3 linked regions of the Homo sapiens genome follow. The protein of the gene in region 2 binds, or shares a complex with, the protein of the main gene of each other region. Each region holds a gene or a part of one and is shown on either strand. Other genes may lie near its edges.

What was found.
Region 1: PRPF8 (region 2) and LSM7 share a complex: the UniProt entries of both Homo sapiens proteins name them as parts of the U4/U6-U5 tri-snRNP complex.
Region 3: PRPF8 (region 2) and LSM6 share a complex: the UniProt entries of both Homo sapiens proteins name them as parts of the U4/U6-U5 tri-snRNP complex.

What each region holds. Positions count from the first base shown.
Region 1 is NC_000019.10:2,325,566-2,332,967, forward strand, and holds the start of LSM7 (U6 snRNA-associated Sm-like protein LSm7), read right to left. Parts: upstream 3,022-7,402; 5' UTR 3,002-3,021; coding exon 2,996-3,001; intron 2,913-2,995; coding exon 2,822-2,912; intron 1-2,821. Other genes in the region: SPPL2B (signal peptide peptidase-like 2B isoform 2 precursor), read left to right, coding at 3,145-3,210. UniProt on the Homo sapiens protein: Plays a role in pre-mRNA splicing as component of the U4/U6-U5 tri-snRNP complex that is involved in spliceosome assembly, and as component of the precatalytic spliceosome (spliceosome B complex).
Region 2 is NC_000017.11:1,650,113-1,653,885, forward strand, and holds the end of PRPF8 (pre-mRNA-processing-splicing factor 8), read right to left. Parts: coding exon 3,665-3,773; intron 3,572-3,664; coding exon 3,430-3,571; intron 1,677-3,429; coding exon 1,536-1,676; intron 1,442-1,535; coding exon 1,302-1,441; intron 1,199-1,301; coding exon 996-1,198; intron 845-995; coding exon 690-844; 3' UTR 517-689; downstream 1-516. UniProt on the Homo sapiens protein: Plays a role in pre-mRNA splicing as core component of precatalytic, catalytic and postcatalytic spliceosomal complexes, both of the predominant U2-type spliceosome and the minor U12-type spliceosome.
Region 3 is NC_000004.12:146,185,705-146,192,056, reverse strand, and holds the end of LSM6 (U6 snRNA-associated Sm-like protein LSm6), read right to left. Parts: intron 4,784-6,352; coding exon 4,670-4,783; intron 2,436-4,669; coding exon 2,401-2,435; 3' UTR 522-2,400; downstream 1-521. UniProt on the Homo sapiens protein: Plays a role in pre-mRNA splicing as component of the U4/U6-U5 tri-snRNP complex that is involved in spliceosome assembly, and as component of the precatalytic spliceosome (spliceosome B complex).

The DNA of each region.
Region 1 (7,402 bases), on a different chromosome or scaffold from region 2:
CATTATTCTGCCTGCCTGTCTCCTCCCAAGGCAGGGCCGAGAGCCCGTCCACGGCTGCTCCACACACACCGAGGGCCGCCCTGTGCGGTGGTGCGGGGGAGGGTCTGCAAACTACGACCCCCAGGTGAACCTGCCCGCCGCTCCTCTCTGTAAGTCAGAGTCTCGCTGGCCCACCACCACACTCGCCCGCTCAGGCGCTGACCAGGGTGGCTCTCCTGCTCTGCTGGCATAGCTCAGTGGTTGTGACAGAGACCATCTGGGCTGCAAAGCTAAAGATATTTGCCGTCTGGCCTTCTACAGAGAAGGTCTGCCCGCCTGCATACAAGCTTCCGTCCACCTCCACAGGCTTCAGCTTCCACCTCCACGGCTCCCTCTCTCTTTGCTCAAGTCCCTCCCCTGCAAAATGAAACTCACCTATAAGATGGGGTCAGATGCAGATGTTCAGGTCCTTGGCACCAGCCTGACCAGTGAGCCCGCCCTCCTCACGGGGAGAGATGTGAGCACTGAGGTAGGTAGGTCTCTAACATGGAGCCAAGGTGCCCCTCCTCTGGAGTGTGGGCTAGGGCCTGTGACTCTGACGGGACAAGATGTCACTCCTGCGCTTAGGTTATGTGGCAAAGACAAGGAACTTTGCAGCTGTAATTAGAGCCCCTGAATCAGCTGACTGAGCCAATCAAGAGAGAAACACCCTGGGTGGGCCTGACTGCATCAGGTGAGCCCTTCAGGGACCAAACCCTTTCTGCTTTTTGTGTGTGTGTGTGTGTGTGTGTGTGTGTGTGTGTGTGTGTGTGTTTGAGATGGAGTCTTGCTCTGTCGCCCAGGCTGGAATGCAGTGGCGCGATCTCAGCTCACTGCAACCTCTGCCTCCAGGGCGATTCTCCTGCCTCAGCCTCCCAAGTAGCTGGGACTACAGGCATGCGCCACCATGCCCAAATAATTTTTGTATTTTTAGTAGAGATGGGGCCTTGCCATGTAGGCCAGGCTGGTCTCAAACTCCTGAACTCAAGTGATCTGCCCGCCTCAGCCTCCCAAAGTGCTGGGATTACAGGCGTGAGCCACAGCGCCCAGTTAATTGTTGTACTTTTAGTAGAGATGGGGTTTCGCCATGTTGGCCAGGCTGGTCTCGAACTCCTGACCTCAGGTGATCCACCTGCCTTAGCCTCCCAGACTGCTGGGATTAAGGCGTGAGCCCCCGCACCCGGCCCCAAACCCTTTCTGAAAGATGATTCTCCCACTGGCCCGAATAACTGAATATGGACAAATGTCAGCTCAGCCTGCAGCACTGTAGGGGCAGACCACCACGGTGGAACAGAGTCCCGAGCTGGCAGCGTCCGGGAGCTGCAAGTGTCCCTAGCCAACACTGGCCAGAACGGGGACCCTGGCCCTGCAAAGGTAAGGCACTGAGCTCTGTCAATAACCAGTGGGCTCAGAAGAAGACCCCAAGATGATGGACCCCAAAAAACAACCCTCAGTTACAACCTCCTGAGAGCCCTTGAGGCTGTGGTACCCTGGCTCCTGACTCACAGATCCTGTGAGATAATAAAATGGTGCTGTTTCAGCTGCTAAATGGGTGATTTGCTATGAAGGGCAGAAAACAAAGGGAAGCAGTGTGACCAGCAAGAGCGGCCGCTCACTCATGTCCTTCCATGTCCGGAGTCAGCATGGTGTAGACTGAGAAAACATTTTATTCATATTCCTTTTTCTTTTTGTTTTGAGACGGAGTCTTGCCCTATCGCCAGGCTGGAGTGCGGTGGCACAATCTCGCCTCTGGGGTTCAAGCAATTCTCCTGCCTCAGCCCCCCGAGTAGCTGGGACTACAAGCGTGCGCCACCATGCCCAGCTAACTTTTTGTATTTTAGTAGAGACAGGGTTTCACCACGTAGGCCAGGATGGTCTTGATCTCCTGACCTCCTGATCTGCCTGCCTCGGCCTCCCAAAGTGTCAAGATTAAAGGCATGAGCCACTGTGCCTGGCCTCCTTTTTCTCTTTTGAGACTGGGCCTTGCTCTGTGGCCCAGGCTGGAGTGCAGTGGTGCGGTCATAGCTCACTGCAGCCTCAAACCCTAGGGTGAAGCCACCCTCCTGCTTCAGACTCCCAAATTGCTGGGATTACACACGTGAGCCGCCCCGTCCGGCTGGGGCACTGTGATTTTTAATAACTCTCATGCCACCCAGTTGTCTACAATCCAGGGACAAAGAGGTTTGGGTCCCCGTCTTACAAAAAAAAGAAACCAAAGATCCAAGAGGCTATTGAATAAGTGACGTGTTGTCTGACTGCTTACTTCCTGCTGAGAGCTGCCTCAATTACATTACATGCCTGTAACCATTCATTCTCACCACCCCCTGTGAAGTGGGTGGAGTTACCAGCCCCATTTGACAAATGAGGAAACGGAGGCTAGGAGAAGGCAGCTCACTTGCCCAGTCAAAAATGCTAGGCTGGGCATGGTGGCTCATGCCTGAAATCCCAGCAATTTAGGGGGCTGAGGCAGGCAGATCGCTTGAGGCCAGGAGTTTGAGACCATCCTGGCCAACATGGCCTCTCTACTAAAAATACAAATATTAGCCGGGCGTGGTGGTACACATTAATTCCAGCTACTCGGGAGGCTGAGGCACAAGAATCACTTGAACCTGGGAGGCGGAGGTTGCAGTGAGCTGAGATCGCACCACTGCACTCCAGCCCGGGTGACAGAGCGAGACTGCGTCTCAAAAAAAATAATGAAAATAAATAAAAGAGGTGCTTCCGCATGCGTCCTCATCATCTCTGTTGCTGGGTTTATTTGAAATTTTTAAAGAGGGGGTACCGACAGCGGGAGCCTCCTCACCTTCGCGGCCTCCCTGGAACTTTACCCGGATCGTCTTGTCGATGTACTTGGACAAGTCCAAGATGCTCTCCTTTTTCTTCTTCTCCTTATCCTGCGGGGAAAGCAGAGCGCATGAGACCTGGAGCGCGGCCCGAGCTCCACGCCCCCCGGCTCCAGATTCCGCCGCGCGCTCACCGCCATCTTGTCGCGCCGTGTGGCTCTTCGCAGGCACCGCCCCGCGCCCTTTGACCTCCCCCACGCGCATGCGCGGCGCATGCGTGGCCCGGGGTCTCGGGGCGTTGCTGGGAAACATCTGCCGTTGGTTGCGGCGGGCACCGGCCGACATGGCGGCAGCGGTGGCGGCTGCGCTGGCGCGGCTTTTGGCGGCCTTTCTGCTCCTCGCGGCCCAGGTGAGCGCGGCACCGGTCCCGACGGCACCGCGGGCTGCGGCCCTTCGGCCTCTCTGTCCCCGGGCTACGCGCAGGAACGACCCCGCTCGGCCCGTCTTGGGGGTCCAGCCTCGGGGATCCGCCGTCCCCGCGTTGTCGGCCGGCGGTGCCGGGGCTCGGCCGTGACCTTGCGGGTCTGTCCCCGGCTCCTCTCCTTTCCCCGCCTCGGAGGCCCTCCGCCGCTGCAGCGCCACTCACTTCCCACCGGGTCTGAAATTTGTGCCCCCTCCATCCTCCGGTTCTGCTTCTCCGTTTCGGGGTCTCCAGTTGCCGCCGGGGACGCCTCTCTCCGGCTCTGTGGCCTTGAGCAGGCGGCTGCCCACCCCTCTCCGAGCCTCAGTTTCCCCTTAGGCGGAACGGGCACGGTGCTAAGCTAACCTCACCCTAGGGGGTGCGGTGGGGGAACCCAGAGGCGTCCCGCGCGTCCCCCAGTAACTGGCAGCATCCTGGAGCGGCCAGGAGTCCAGCCCTGCACTGGGGTCGGATCCCCGCTCCATCTTTTACTCCGTGACCTTGGACGATGGAATTCGTGTGCAGAAGGAGGACCGACTATGGTGTGGATTCTGGAGGTTCTGTCCAGGGTGACCAGCGCCCAGGGCCAACAGGCCTTCATTATGTTCATTGTGTGTCATTTGATGTAAAGAGTGTCAGGTTCTAGTGGGGACAGTCTACGAGATCGCACTGTCATAACTGCATCTTTTATTTTCTTAATTCCAAATCTTCCCTCTCTCCTGAGTTCGGTGGCTCAGGCAATGGAACCTGGAGCAGCCCCACAAATGCAGCCCTTAACCTTCACTACCCCCTCAGAGTTCTCACTCTTAAGGCGTCGCCGCCACCTGGCTCCTCAGTCTCCACTCCTCCAGCCCCACCGCTATCCCTCTGCTGTGGCTGCCTTTGTCCACCACATCCCCAGTCCATCCTCGACACAGCAGGGGTGACCCTTTCAAAGTATGTCAGACCGTGTCGCATCCAGATGAGTGCGCCGTCCAGTTGTGACCTGGCTGCTGGGGAAGCCTGCAGCTCATTGCAGTCGCTTCACTCTCTAGTCTTTTCTCTTACCCTGAGATGCCCCTGGTCTCTGCAAGGCTGTCGGGCCCCCTCGGAAGCTTTCTGAGAACCCCAGTCCTACCCCCAGCTGCTCTGTCAGCCCCCTTTGGACTCCCCCCATTCTGCAGCCAGGCACCTAGAGCTCCCCAGACATTTGGAAGGAGGGGGAAAGCCAGAGGTGGAAGAAAGATCACAGAACTCTGTGGAGAGAGGGACTCAGTTTGCCTGGGAAGGCTTTTCCGAAGCAGATCTATTTTTTTTTTTTGAGACGGAGTCTCGCTCTGTCGCCCAGGCTGGAGTGCAGTGGCATGATCTAGGCTCACTGCAACCTCTGCCTCCCGGTTCAAGCAATTCTCCCACCTCAGCCTCCCGAATAGCTGGGATTACAGGTGCATGCCACCACTCCTGGCTAAATTTTTTTTTTTTTTTTTTTAGTAGAGACGAGGTTTCACCATGTTGGTCAGGCTGGTCTCGAACTTCAGACCTCAGGTGATCCACCTGCTTCGGCCACCCAAAGTGCTGGGATGACAGGCGTGAGCCACCGTGCCCGGCCCCGAGGCAGGTGTTCTGAATGATGAGTAGGAGTTTGCCGGGTCGGCAGGAGGGGAAGGGTGTTGGAAGCACCAGAAGCAGCATAAGCGGGGGCTGGGAGGTGTGAGAGCTGGCAGGTTATTTGGGGTTGGCAAGGGGTGGGCTGTGGCTGGAGTGTAGGGTGGAATAATGCTGGAAGGAAGGGTTTACACCCTGAAAGATGTCACCACCAAGGAGGCCCGGGGGGTGGGCCGTGGAGGGTTGCTGGAGCAGGGGCACAGAGGAGGGGGCAGTGGTGCGAGTGGCCCCAGGCAGAGAGTGAAGGCAGAGCATTCAGCCTCCTAGTCTGGATGACAGGTTGTCTGGTGGAAGCCAGGCCGTGGAAGGCGCTTGGTGCTGGGGTGCGTGGACTTTAACCTGGGCGGGCTGAGGAGTGTGAGCTTTATCCGGAGGGTGGGGAGTCAAAGGATGTGTCAGAGGGACGTGAGAGAGCAGGTGTTCCTGCCCCTTCCAGAACCCTGGTTGTAAATACACCCTGAGACGCCTGTCCCTGGAGGGGGGCAGTGCTTCGCGGCAGTGGAAATTTGAGTCCGATTGCCCAAGAATGAGACTTGCTCTCAGGGCAGGAGCCTGGTTGGTGACAGTCCTCAACTCGCTTGCTTGCTACCATTCTGTGACCCTGAGCAAGGAAGTCGACCTCCCCAGTGAGACACCTCCCTTCCCCCACCCCACGGAGCCCGCTCCTCAGCAGATCTGAGCTGGAGCTGGTGGCCCTGGCTGGACCCGGCCCGGCTCCTGGAACTCCTCAGTCTTCCCAGAAGGGAGGCTCTCCCCGCCTGGACTCACTGGCCTGTTTCAAAGGCCCTTGATGTGGATGCTTTCACAGTCACTTGGAAGCGGGGTTTCTAAGCCTAGTAGTTTCTGAACCTGTGTGCGGTTGCAAAGCGTTTGTGCTGCAATTGTGAAGGATTTGGAGGTCGAGGCTTGGGCTTTGAGCCTGTCCTTGTAGCCTGAGCTTTTTCTGCTCCTCCAAATTTCGGTGGGCCTGTCTAGAACTCAGGGCCCTCTTAGAGCTGTGGCCTTTGGAAGAATTGTTCCCCGTTCCTTTAACTCAGCAGGTGAGGAAACTCTTCCCGGTGAGATGCCGCGTTCTCTGGCCTTTGATAGAGGCACAGGCTTGTTTTTTTAATGGAAAACCAGTTTTGCGAATTGTGGAGAGGAAAATGCATGAATGTGCTTTTGTGCTTTTAAATGACCCTTTTAGAGAGAAGCAGAGAAGCAGTTCTATCAGTTCCCATTTTACACAAAAGACACTTTTCACCAGAGTCCCTGATCCCATAGAACAGAGCTTGGCAAGTGTTTTCTGGGAAGGGCTAGACAGTAGTTTTGCTGGGCTCTGTGGCCCACGTGGCCTCTGGTTTGGTTGCTTGGTTTCTCCTGTTGTTCTTCCAGAGCCGGAGACCCTTCCTTAGGAATGGGCTTGGCTGTGTTCCAATAAAACTTTATTTACAAACACAGAAGGTGGGCCGGACTGTGGATTCTTGGCCTCTGCCGTGACCCATAACATCCCTCCTGGAGGAGGGGTTCTGGGGGGCTGTGTTGGAAGGGGCACCCTCCGGGCTCGGCACCGGGGCCAGACTAAGGGGTGCTCTCACGGGCAGGCAGTCTGGTGGGCAGAACTGGAAAGAAAGGGCTCCTGACTCTGCCTGGGCTCTGGGGGAGGTCACATGGGAGGTGCTTGGAGTGGGGCTGGGGCAGCTGTGGGAAGGAAGCAGCATTAGCCAAGAGCTATGAGACCCCCAGTCGATTGTGGGGACCGGGGCTCCGTGGGCTTTCACCATGCTGCCACCCCGAGGTCACCAGGGCCTTGACCCAGATGCTCCCAGACCAGGCCGGAGACTTTGCATGATTTCAGTGATGAGGGCCCGGCTGTTGGAGAGCCCGTCTGTGCCTGTGTGCTGGGGTTGGTGTCTGGCACCAGGGACCTTTGGGACCTTTAGCCAAGCCAGAGCTGTCCTTCCCCAGTCCTAGCTTGGCAGAGCTGCGTCTGCACTGTTTTCCCTTGTGGCGTTGTGGTGTCGGCCCGTTTGGTGCGCAGCTCAGCATCCGTTCAGACATGTGGCTGCCATCCTGTTCCTGATGAGGCAAATGGCTGTGGCCTGTTTGTTTCCGTGACAGGTCCCCTGGGGACCAGGGGGTGCGGCTGTCTCTCTGTCTGGGAGGTTTACAGCCTGGCAGGAGCCCTGCAGCCCCAGAAGGCTGAGGGCTGGGTGCTCCTGAGAACGGGCAGGCCTAGGGCATGGGGTGGGTCTCCTTGGTCCCTGGCACGTGGTTTTTCTTCTGGGACCCCTCCTCCCTGTGCAGGCCGGGCTCCCCTGGGGGCCCACACTGAGGGTCTGCAGTGTGGCACAGCAGCTGGGACCTGGGCCCCATCGCTGTGAGACCCTCTGGTGACTGGCATCCTGGCGAGATGGAGATGTCTTTGTCAGCTGCTGGGTGGGGGCCCTGGGCAGGGGAGCAGAAGGAAGGTGGGGATGGCAGGTGCGGGCGGCTGGACTGGGCTCTGCTGGGAGGG
Region 2 (3,773 bases):
CCAGGCTCCGCCCGTTTGGAGTCATGGGGCCAACTTGGCAGTGGCCCGCTCCAGGCGAGAGGTGACAGGTAGGCAGCCGGTCTCTGGCCTCCGCCCGGCTGTACACAAACTGCCTGCCTGTGTGCTTGTTTTCCTGACCAGGACTGACACAGAAAGCTTAAAGGGCTGGGCTGGACACCGCAGCCGCTCAGCACAAGCCACAGAGTTCCTAGACCCGGGAAAGGGCAACTGCTCCCAAAACTGTGGAAAGGAGGCGAGAGCTTCCAAGTAGTTTTGTGGAAAAAGCAGCAAATGTGGTCAAGGCAGCGGAGTGTGAAAGCCCAGCCCTGCCTCAGGTCTCCACTGAGTCCAGGGGCTATCTACCCCAAAGCCCTGAATAGGAAGGGGGCCTCATACTCCCCCCTTCACAGCCGAGCCCAGCATCTTGCTGTGAACCGCTCCAGTCCAGCCTCCTGTTAGACCTAAATCCAGAATTTGAGTTTGGGGGGGAAAAAAAAAACAAACCAGCCCCTGAACTCCTATTTATACAAAATTTATTATTATATTTTATTCAGGATGACAAGCCATCAGGAGGTCAACAACACAAGCACAGACAGAGGGAAAGAGGCCAAACTGCTGAATGTCAGCGGCCTGTCTGGAGGGGCTGAGGCTTCGGCCTCGGGAGGCTGAAGCAGGAGGCAGGGAAACGGTCAGGCATACAGGTCCTCCCGATCCGCAGAGTAAACCTCCCCCTCCTGCAGGAGAGCAAAGTTGAGGAAGTGAGAGGGCCTGTGCACCTCGTGGTAGAACTCTTTGGGGTTCGCCAGCTGTAGCTCATATTTCATGTTGGGGTCATGCCGAACACCTTCGGGGAGAAGGAAACAGCCAATGTTAACAGGGCTCCTGCCTCATGCAGCCTGCGCCACCTCCAAGCCAGCCAGGCCCCAAGTGCAAAGGGCGATGGCCTCACCTTATCCCTACTGCTATCCCCACATCCCCAGGCTCCTCCCACTTACCCATGAAGTTGTAGTTCCACGAGGACTGGGCAGGGACCATGAAGAAGCCAAGGAAACGGTCCGACAGCAGCATCTGCACCCTCTCATAGTGTGAAGGCAGGTAGCCCTTGGGGTTGTTGCCCTTGTCTGTGTTCTGGCGGCCCCATTCGTAGCCACTGGGGGTCAGCTTGTAGGCCGTCAGTGTACAGGAGCCTGGCGTGAAGCTGGGGGAGGAACGAGGACAGAGTAACAGCTCAGGCCACTGTTCTGGGCCCTGGCCTGCAATCCCTGCCCCACCATACTTCCTCCCAAGGAGCCCAGGCCCACCTGCATGTGATGATAATGGTCTTCTCGCCATCCCAAGATGGGTTGTCAGCCATGATCTTGGCATGGGTGGTGACATCCTGGGGTGATAACTGCGGGGACTCATTGGGCTGAGTGTGGATCCAACCTAAGGGTTCCATCTCCTATAGGTAAAGAGGAGTACAGAGCTGAATCCCATCCACAGACAGGAATCGCACCAGCTTTTCCACACTCCCAGGCTCCATCACTCCCCATTACCTTGAGGTACTCATGCTGGGGCAGCTGGCCAGGCAGGTGCACGGTCTGGTGAGTGCCCCACTGCGGCACCATCACAATGCAGCGGATCTCCTTCACCTGGGGGTTATCTGGTGGGCTCACCCCATATAGGTATCCTGCAATCTGGAGACAAAGGGGTCAGGAACCAAAACTCTTCTTAGTACCAGGTCAGAGTTGGAGCTGCCAGCCCTCTGTTTCCTTCCTTCCCCCAAGAACGAGGACAGAGTTTCTTAAAACGTGATCAGAACCCCCTGTATCAGAATCAGCTGGGGTGCTTGTTCAAAATGTTAGACATGGACCTCATCGCGGACTTACCACATCAGAATCTCCTGAGTGGGGTCCAGGAATCTGCACTGCTCACAAGCTCCCCAGCTGATTATTAAGCATAGTATTCACAAGCAAATGAGCACACATGCAGCTCAGTGTATTTTCACAAGCTGAAAACATCTGGAAAACCAGCACTTGGTGCTATTTTAAGTTTTACATTATCACCAAGAAAGAAAGAGGATCTGTTTACTATAAACTCACCCACACAGGATATTAACAATCTTTTCAAATTTGCCAACCTGACAGCCACTAAATAGTGGGTTTGAGATGGAGTCTCACTCTGTCAGCAAGGCTGGAGTGCAGTGGTGTGATCTCAGCTCACTGCGACCTCCGCCTCCTGGGTTCAAGCAATTCTCCTGCCTCAGCTTCCTGAGTAGCTGGGACTACAGGCACATGCCACCATGCCCCGCTAATTTTCATATATTTAAGAGAGACGGGGTTTCGCCACGTTGGCCAAGCTGGTCTTGAACTCCTGACCTCAAGTGATTCACCCACCTTGGCCCAAAATGATGTTTTATAAACTATAATATCCCTGATACACTAGTAAAGTTATGCATCTTTTCTCTTTTTTGAAGCAGGGTATCACTCTGTCACCCAGGCTAGCAGGCAGTGACATGATCTCAGCTCACTACACTCACCACCCTCCAGGATCAGGTGATCCTCCCACCTCAGCCTCCTGAGTAGCTGAGATTACAGGTGTATGCCACCATGCCTGGCTAGTTTTTTTTTTTTTTTTTTGTAGAGACTCCATTTCGTCATGTTGCCCAGGCTGGTCTCGAACTCCTGGGCTCAAAAGATCTGCCCACCTCGGCCTCCCACAGTGCTGGGATTACAGTCATGAGCCACTGTGCCCAGCCTGGAGTGCAGTGGGGTCATCAAAGCTCACTGCTTGCGTTCAAGCAACCTCATCCTCCTGAGTAGCTGGGACTACAGCCACGTTTTTTTTGGTTTTGTTTTTTTAGACGGGGTCTTGCTCTGTTGCCCAGGCTGGAGTGCAGTGATGCAATCTTGGCTCACTGCAAGCTCCACCTCACCTCCCGGGTTCAAGCAATTCTCCTGTCTCAACCTCCCTAGTAGCTGCAACTACGGGCGCATGCCACCATGCCTGGCTAATTTTTTGTATTTTTAGTAGAGACAGGGTTTCACCATATTGGTCAGGCTGGTCTCAAACCCCTGACCTCAGGTGATCCACCCACCTAGGCCTCCCAAAGTGCTGGGATTATAGGCATTAGCCACTGTGCCCAGCCGAGTGTTGGGATTACAGGCATGAGCCAGCACGCACACCTGGTCAGGAATTTGTTTCTGACCATATCTGTTCTCTTCCAAATACTATCAGGCCAATACTACAATTACTACCTTCTCTCAGCTGCCACAGCTTTTGCTATCTCATGGGGCCAAAACCCACCTCGTTGTTTTGGCTATCCTTGTATAATTACTCATCCATGAATCTTGAAACCAGCATCTCAAGTTCCAGACAATCTCAGGTCTGAGTTTTAGGCACAAAATGAGTTGGGCACACACTGTGGCCTAGCTGAGTCCACTTACTCACTTGGGCCCGAAGGTCAGATATGCAGATGAACTTCTTAAGCACATTCTTGGGAAGGATGTAGGTGTAGCCAGTCTCCTTGATGTCGTCAGATGAAACATAGATGTGATTGGTCCTTAGGTGCAGGTTGGCAGCAGAGATGGCCCTAAAAACAGGCAGGGAGTGTCAGCATCGCTCAGCCCAGCACCTTAGGTAGTGCAGCCGGCCTTTCCATCCCCACCCTCTTGCCCGACAGTACCTGACCCTCCACTCAGTCTTGGATGAGAAAGTCTGGGTCTCATAGTTGCTGGTGGTGGAGGTGATGATCTCATCGCCATGCTTGTTGACAGTGCGAGTCTGTGTTGCCG
Region 3 (6,352 bases), on a different chromosome or scaffold from region 2:
GCATTCCATATTGCCTTGAGCAGAAAGCTTCAGATGTAAACCATCTTTCAATAACATTCCCTTCCTGAATGCTGAGATGAGAACATGAAAATCATACCACATGTCTGCCATCTGTATTTGTACTTGTCAACAGCTCTGTTTTGGGATAAACAGTTTTGAAATAAGAATCAATTCGACTTGTTGGAAGATTAGCCAAGGAATAGCTCAAAGACCAAAACAGAAAATGAAGTCAGATAGTCTGAAAATCGAGCACAATTTTGTTTCTCGCTAAACATTCTGTTTTGTCACAGCCCAAGAGAAAGAGTGTGGCAGACAGGGTTTGGGGGCACACAGACAGGGAAAATGTATGTTCTCAAGTAAAAAATTCTTCAACCTGGAACAAATGTCTTCGCTACAATGCAACTAGAAATCATTCACTGACCTCTAGGAGACTACAGTTAAGAACAAAGCAATTTAAGCATTTACACTTTGTTTCATGGTTCTACTATGTGAAGGTATACACAGGGGACAACTTGAGCGGGTTCAAGTGCATAATACAGTCCTTTATTACCATAAAAATGGCAGCACTTCCCAAAGTTGATCTTGATTAAAAGTAGTTCCATGGTTGAAAACAGTACTCCACTGTAGAGCTATTAAACTAGAGAGATGGCAAGGGGAAAATAAAGACTTATATATCAAAGGCGAGGTCAGGGAAGAAGTTAGAAAAAACAGGACGCTACAGATTAGTGGGAGACTACAATGGAATTGCTTTTAGAGGTGGCTGATATAAGTGAATGAAGGGACACAATAACCTGCAGCCCCACATATTCTACAAAACAAATGAGAACATGTATGCTCCACTTGGAGAGCCATCCATTTTCTCCTTAAAAGAACTCATTTATAAAAGAGCAAATTGGTGATTTGTACTTACATACTGGACCTTTTCCAAGCCCCTGTCAAGAAGTGATAAATTATTGAAGCATAGCATAAAGTGTTTTATTTTCAGTGTGCACACGGTAAAACCCTGTGAAATGCTTCTGTTCACCTTTCCCAAGTTATTAATTAAAAAATAATTGTTTCCAATTACTCTCTGATCTTTAAAATAAACCAAGACAAAACACTACATACACCTCTCCAGAATCAGCACTGCCCCTTCCCTCTCTCCTTCTCGATCCTGCCCCCCATCCTTCAACCAAGCAGTTGTTTCGAATCACACCATCGGCTCCTGAAATAGGAATGCTATTTAGATTGGGAAGGGAGGGAAGAGGAAGTCCAATACAACATTCACACAATTGTCTGGTATTCATTCAACCACAGTGCCCAGATATATTTGTTGTTCCTAGAGACAGCGTAAAACTGTTTGGAGAATAAAGCAGGGTTGTGGAAAGCTCATTAATAAATTGTGAAAATCCTCTCAGCAGGAGTCACATAACCAGAGGAGCTGCCTTGTGCCAAGCAACATAAAGCCTGGTGCTCTGCTCCTGGACAATGTCAAAGGCAAATACAGCTGATTTTTGAGAAAGGCCTCCCTACAGCCACTTGCTAGACCAGAGTTAGGAAAAATTCTTTCCCAATCTCAGCTCGGCAATTAGAACCTGAATTATGTTTACAAACTCTAGGCTTTGCTTTAATCTGACTGTGAGAGATGTACAGGAATGGCCCCTCCCCTACTGTGTTCATAAACTGAGAGAATAACGTTGATGCCAATGCTCCTGAAAGGGAGCAGGGAAACCTAAAAAGTCTAATTGCATAAGGAGATGCAGGGGGACCACTGACAGGAGGGCTTTCTCCTCACTGAAATCTTGTTCATCTTTAGGATTTCTCCAGCACCTCAGTTCGAATTCCCACTCCTTATGTGCAAGTGGCACTCTTGGCTTTCCAATTCTGTTTTTTATTTAGGTGACTCAATCAGTGGCTGAACTTCTGATCCTGTGGCCCCTTTTTGTAGCTTCAGACTGAAACTGGATGCCTTTGTAGAACATATTCACGCAAGGATTCTGTATGAACAGAAAAGGATGCAATAAAGGAGGATTCCTCCAAAATGTTTTAATTATATGTCCATACAATATATAAAATATATGCATCATTTTAGCTGGATAAGAAAAGCAAGTCAAATGAAATGACACTTCTCGAAACTTAAGTTAAATAATCTTGTAGGAAGAGGTATATTTTGTCTTTTTTTAATTATTTTAGCATTCTGTACACTGACAACGAGGTAAAAGAAAATGACTGAAACTTACAAGTGAAAGAACATTTCACAATTAAATCCACAATTGTATACATTTATCTTACTCACATGTCAGTGAAAAATCACCAACTATTATAAAAAGAGGACAAATTGTATCACAAAAGAAGCAAAAATTAGAAAAAATTCATAAAAAAATATATCCAACTATGAAAAGCGTTGCTCTCTTGGTGTCTTCACATCCGTCTCTTCTGTGTACTGATGTACAACACTGAAAAGAAAAAAATACATAAATTGAAATTTAAAAAACCCTGCTTGTAAGTATACATAGTAGCAAGTTTAAAAGCCAACAGATTTTGGTCTGATACATCTGACATTTAAAAGGAATTCTCGTATCATTCAATTAACTCTAGAAGTACTGTAAGACTAGTTTTATGAATCTACACCCAGGTTTGATGTCTTACAAAACTGTCCTAATTTCATCCATGTGTCTCACTGACTCTTTAAAGTGTGACCAGGAAGATAAAATAAAATATATGTGAAAGTCCCTGGTATCTAAGAATGCTTTATAGTTAGAAGTATAAGAATTATGCTTTTCAGGGCTGAACACGGTGGCTCACGCCTGCAATCTTAGCACTTTGGGAGGCTGAAGCGGGTGGATCACTTGAGCTCAGAAGTTTGAGACCAGCCTGGGCAACATGGTGAAACCCCGTTTCTACCAAAAATACAAAAAATTAACCAGGCATGGTGGTATATGCACTTGTAGTCCCAGCGACTTAGAACGCTGAGGTGGGAGGACTGCTTGAGCTTGGGAGGCAGAGGCTGCAGTGAGCTGAGATTGCACAACTACACTCCAGCCTGGGCCACAGAGCGAGACTTCATCTCAGGAAAAAAAAAAAAAAAAAAAGATGCTTTTCAGAAAGTAAATCAGTAAATCTAACCAGGCTAGATCTCAAATTAAGAATAAACAACATATTTTCATCTGTCTCCCCAATACAAACTCTAAACTTGCTGTTTACCTTCTTAAATGCAACAGGATAAACAAGAGCTAAGGAGTTTATTTTTTATTTTTATTTTTTAATGATACCAAAGTCCTTATTCTGAGTTCCCGTTAAAAGTCTCATACTTTGGTGTTACCTAATGTTCTGCTTAGTGGTCTTCTCATGACTACCAACATGAACTCGTAGGATGTGTGGTCCGTAGGAATGAAACAAAATGAAATGCTTGGGTCACTTTGGCCAAACTAGAGGTGGTTCTCCCTTCCACCTTCCATGCCTACTCGGCTTCTGAGAGGTCTGCTCAAAGCGAACAGTAAGGTGTCTTCATCAAAGAACATAGCACAGATGAATCAAATAAGTCAAGATCCTCTTTAAGAGCCAATGATGTGAACTTGGGAGTCTAAAGATGAGTGTCACTGATTACATCATGGGAAATGTGACATGAAGGGAAGCATCAGAATGCCAGTACAGCCGCCCCCCAACCCTGCCCCCCAAGTCCTAGGGGTAGTGTGCACGTTAAAGGATCTACCCTATCAACACGCACAGAACCCAACCTGCCAGTGACTGCTGCCATTAGCTGTCTTGAGGTGAGACAAGATCATAACATTTCTTAGGAAAAAGAGGAGGTCAAATAAGGATATGAAAAATAGGATAAATAATTCTATAAATAGAAAGGACTAGAAAGCCAGGAAATAATGTATGTAAAAATATGATATGAAGAAATAAGGTCCTGTAAGCATAGGGGACAGACTCTTATTATAAAAGTCAGGAAGTTTAGTTTATAGCAAAGAGATCCAACTATTTAGGGGGTTGAAGACATCCAGAATTAAAGAAATCAACAAAAAATCTGAACTCAAGAATCCCAGAGTTTCTGGGAGATGGAACCAAAAAGTGGGGTAATTCTCATAATTCTGATATCTTTCCCTCCCCACCAAAAATACAAATATGACTTTATTATAATTTTCATTTTTAAACTAGGTACTTAAAAATAACTATAAAAATCATAGCAATTTATTAGTTGTTAAAAACTGAGTAACTTTTTCTATTTTGCCATTTTTGCCAAACTGAAGGATGCAAATCTGCATAGAAAGCATCTGAATGTTTAATAGAGAAGGGACAAATAGGACGAACTGCCAAATTATGCAAATCAAAGACAGCAGGGAAACGGTGCCCATTCTTACATCTCCAACTTCCAGGCTACAAGAAGCAGGAATATGTGTTGGGGAGATATACTACACTATATTCGAGAAAGCAGGGTTCCAGGTAAGGAGAACAATGTCCCTCAGTTCCTCATCACTAAAGGAAGGGAAGGAGAGAATTTTGGTTTCAAAATTCCATGAAGCATCTACAAAATAACTGGTCAAACTGAAGATCTGACATATAAGCATTTTAAAATAATCAAGCCTAAAAGTGGACTTTTAAATTATCTAGAAACCTCTTTGGTGATCTGGATTATAAATAGAAAGGCTTATTTTGAATGCTGTACTGTAGGGCGAAGAAATGTTACCATTGTTTCCTCGGATAAATGCATCCCCATACTTATTCTTCAGTTGTCCATTTACATATTCTTCTGTCTGCTCCAGGGCTATATTCATGTAGCCATCCAGGCAAGCCAGGACCCCTGCAGACATATTTAGTCAAAAAGAAGATACACAAGGCAAATAAGAGTTGAAAATTACAGGGTATACCTTAGAGCAGACAATCTCTTTATTCATTAGTTCTTAGATGCTTAATATAAAAATTCACACCATAAATGAAACTCAACAGCTTAAGCACAAAACAACTCTATGCCAATCTGAATGAAGTCTAGGAAGGCAGTCACGCACCCACTACTACCCGGTAAAACAACAAACTGTCACTTCCCTCATGGTACGTATGACCACACAGAAACTTTTAAAGCATTCAAAAAAGTAAGAGAATAAGACTATTCCGGCAAAAATACCATTCTTTGAAAGCTAAGCACAAGGTGGGCAATTATGCATAAACAAATGATCCTTGGTTCCAGTGGCATTTCCTACTTTAGCCACTAAGTGAAATACGGGTCTGGCAGATTTATTTCATTCTTTTACAACATCTATTGCAGCAGATGAATGTACTCCAGGGTTAAAAGGAAGTCTCCACAATCTGTTAAAATAATAGAAGAGGAGACAGCAGGTGCTCCCGAAAGAACATCTTAAAGCTGTGACTCACAGTGAAGAGCAGCTTGAGAATATAGGGCAACATATTGCATTATAACACATCTTGTTCTGTTTTGTTACAGCTATAATATTTTCCAATCAAAACTAATAGAGAAAATGGCCAAAAACATTCGAGGGAGCTTTCAAGGAAACAGTTTGAGTCAATCTTTAATTGTGTTAAGATGGTATAAATTTTGTAAAATTTGACCTGATGATCTTTTTCAAAAGATGAAAATCTGTAAGCCTCTAATTCTGTCTCTAATTTAAAGTGGTATTTCCTAGAAAAAAAAATTTAAGTAAAAACAAATACTAGATTCAATTCAGTCGAGTCTATAGTTTCTCATTTGATGTCTTAACTTCATTAATATGCTCCTCACTCTCTGCCTCTGCCCCCATTATCCTCTAAACAAAAAAGTTTCCTTTCAAAATTGTGTAATGACAGCAAAAGACATTAATCTACCAGAATTCTGCTAAAAGCGGTAAACTCTCAAAGAACGAGAATGGACTGTGAATAATAAAATTATTTCCTAGCAAAAGAAAGCTTAAGCTACAACTTTAGCTCGTTTCCTGCTGTACTATTTTACATACAAACTGCAATTATAAATGAGCAAGAAAAATCTGAGGCACAATATGCAAACCTGTTTGAAAACCAATGAAAAGAATTTCAAAATGAAATGTCCAGGCTGGGCAAAGTGGCTCATGCCTGTAATCCCAGTACTTTGGGAGGTAGAAGCTGGCAGATCACTTGAGGTCAGGAGTTCAAGATCAGCCTGGCTAACATGGCGAAACCCCGTCTCTACTAAAAATACAAAAATTAGCCAGGCATGGTGGCAGGTGCCTGTAATCCCAGCTACTTGGGAGGCTGAGGCAGGAGAATCGTCTGAACTTGGGAGGCGGAGGTTGCAGTGAGCCAAGACTGAGCCACTGCACTCCAGCCTGGGCGAAAGAGTGAGACTCGGTCTCAAAAAAGAAAAAAGAAAAAAAAAAAAGAGTTCACTTCTAATTAAAATATC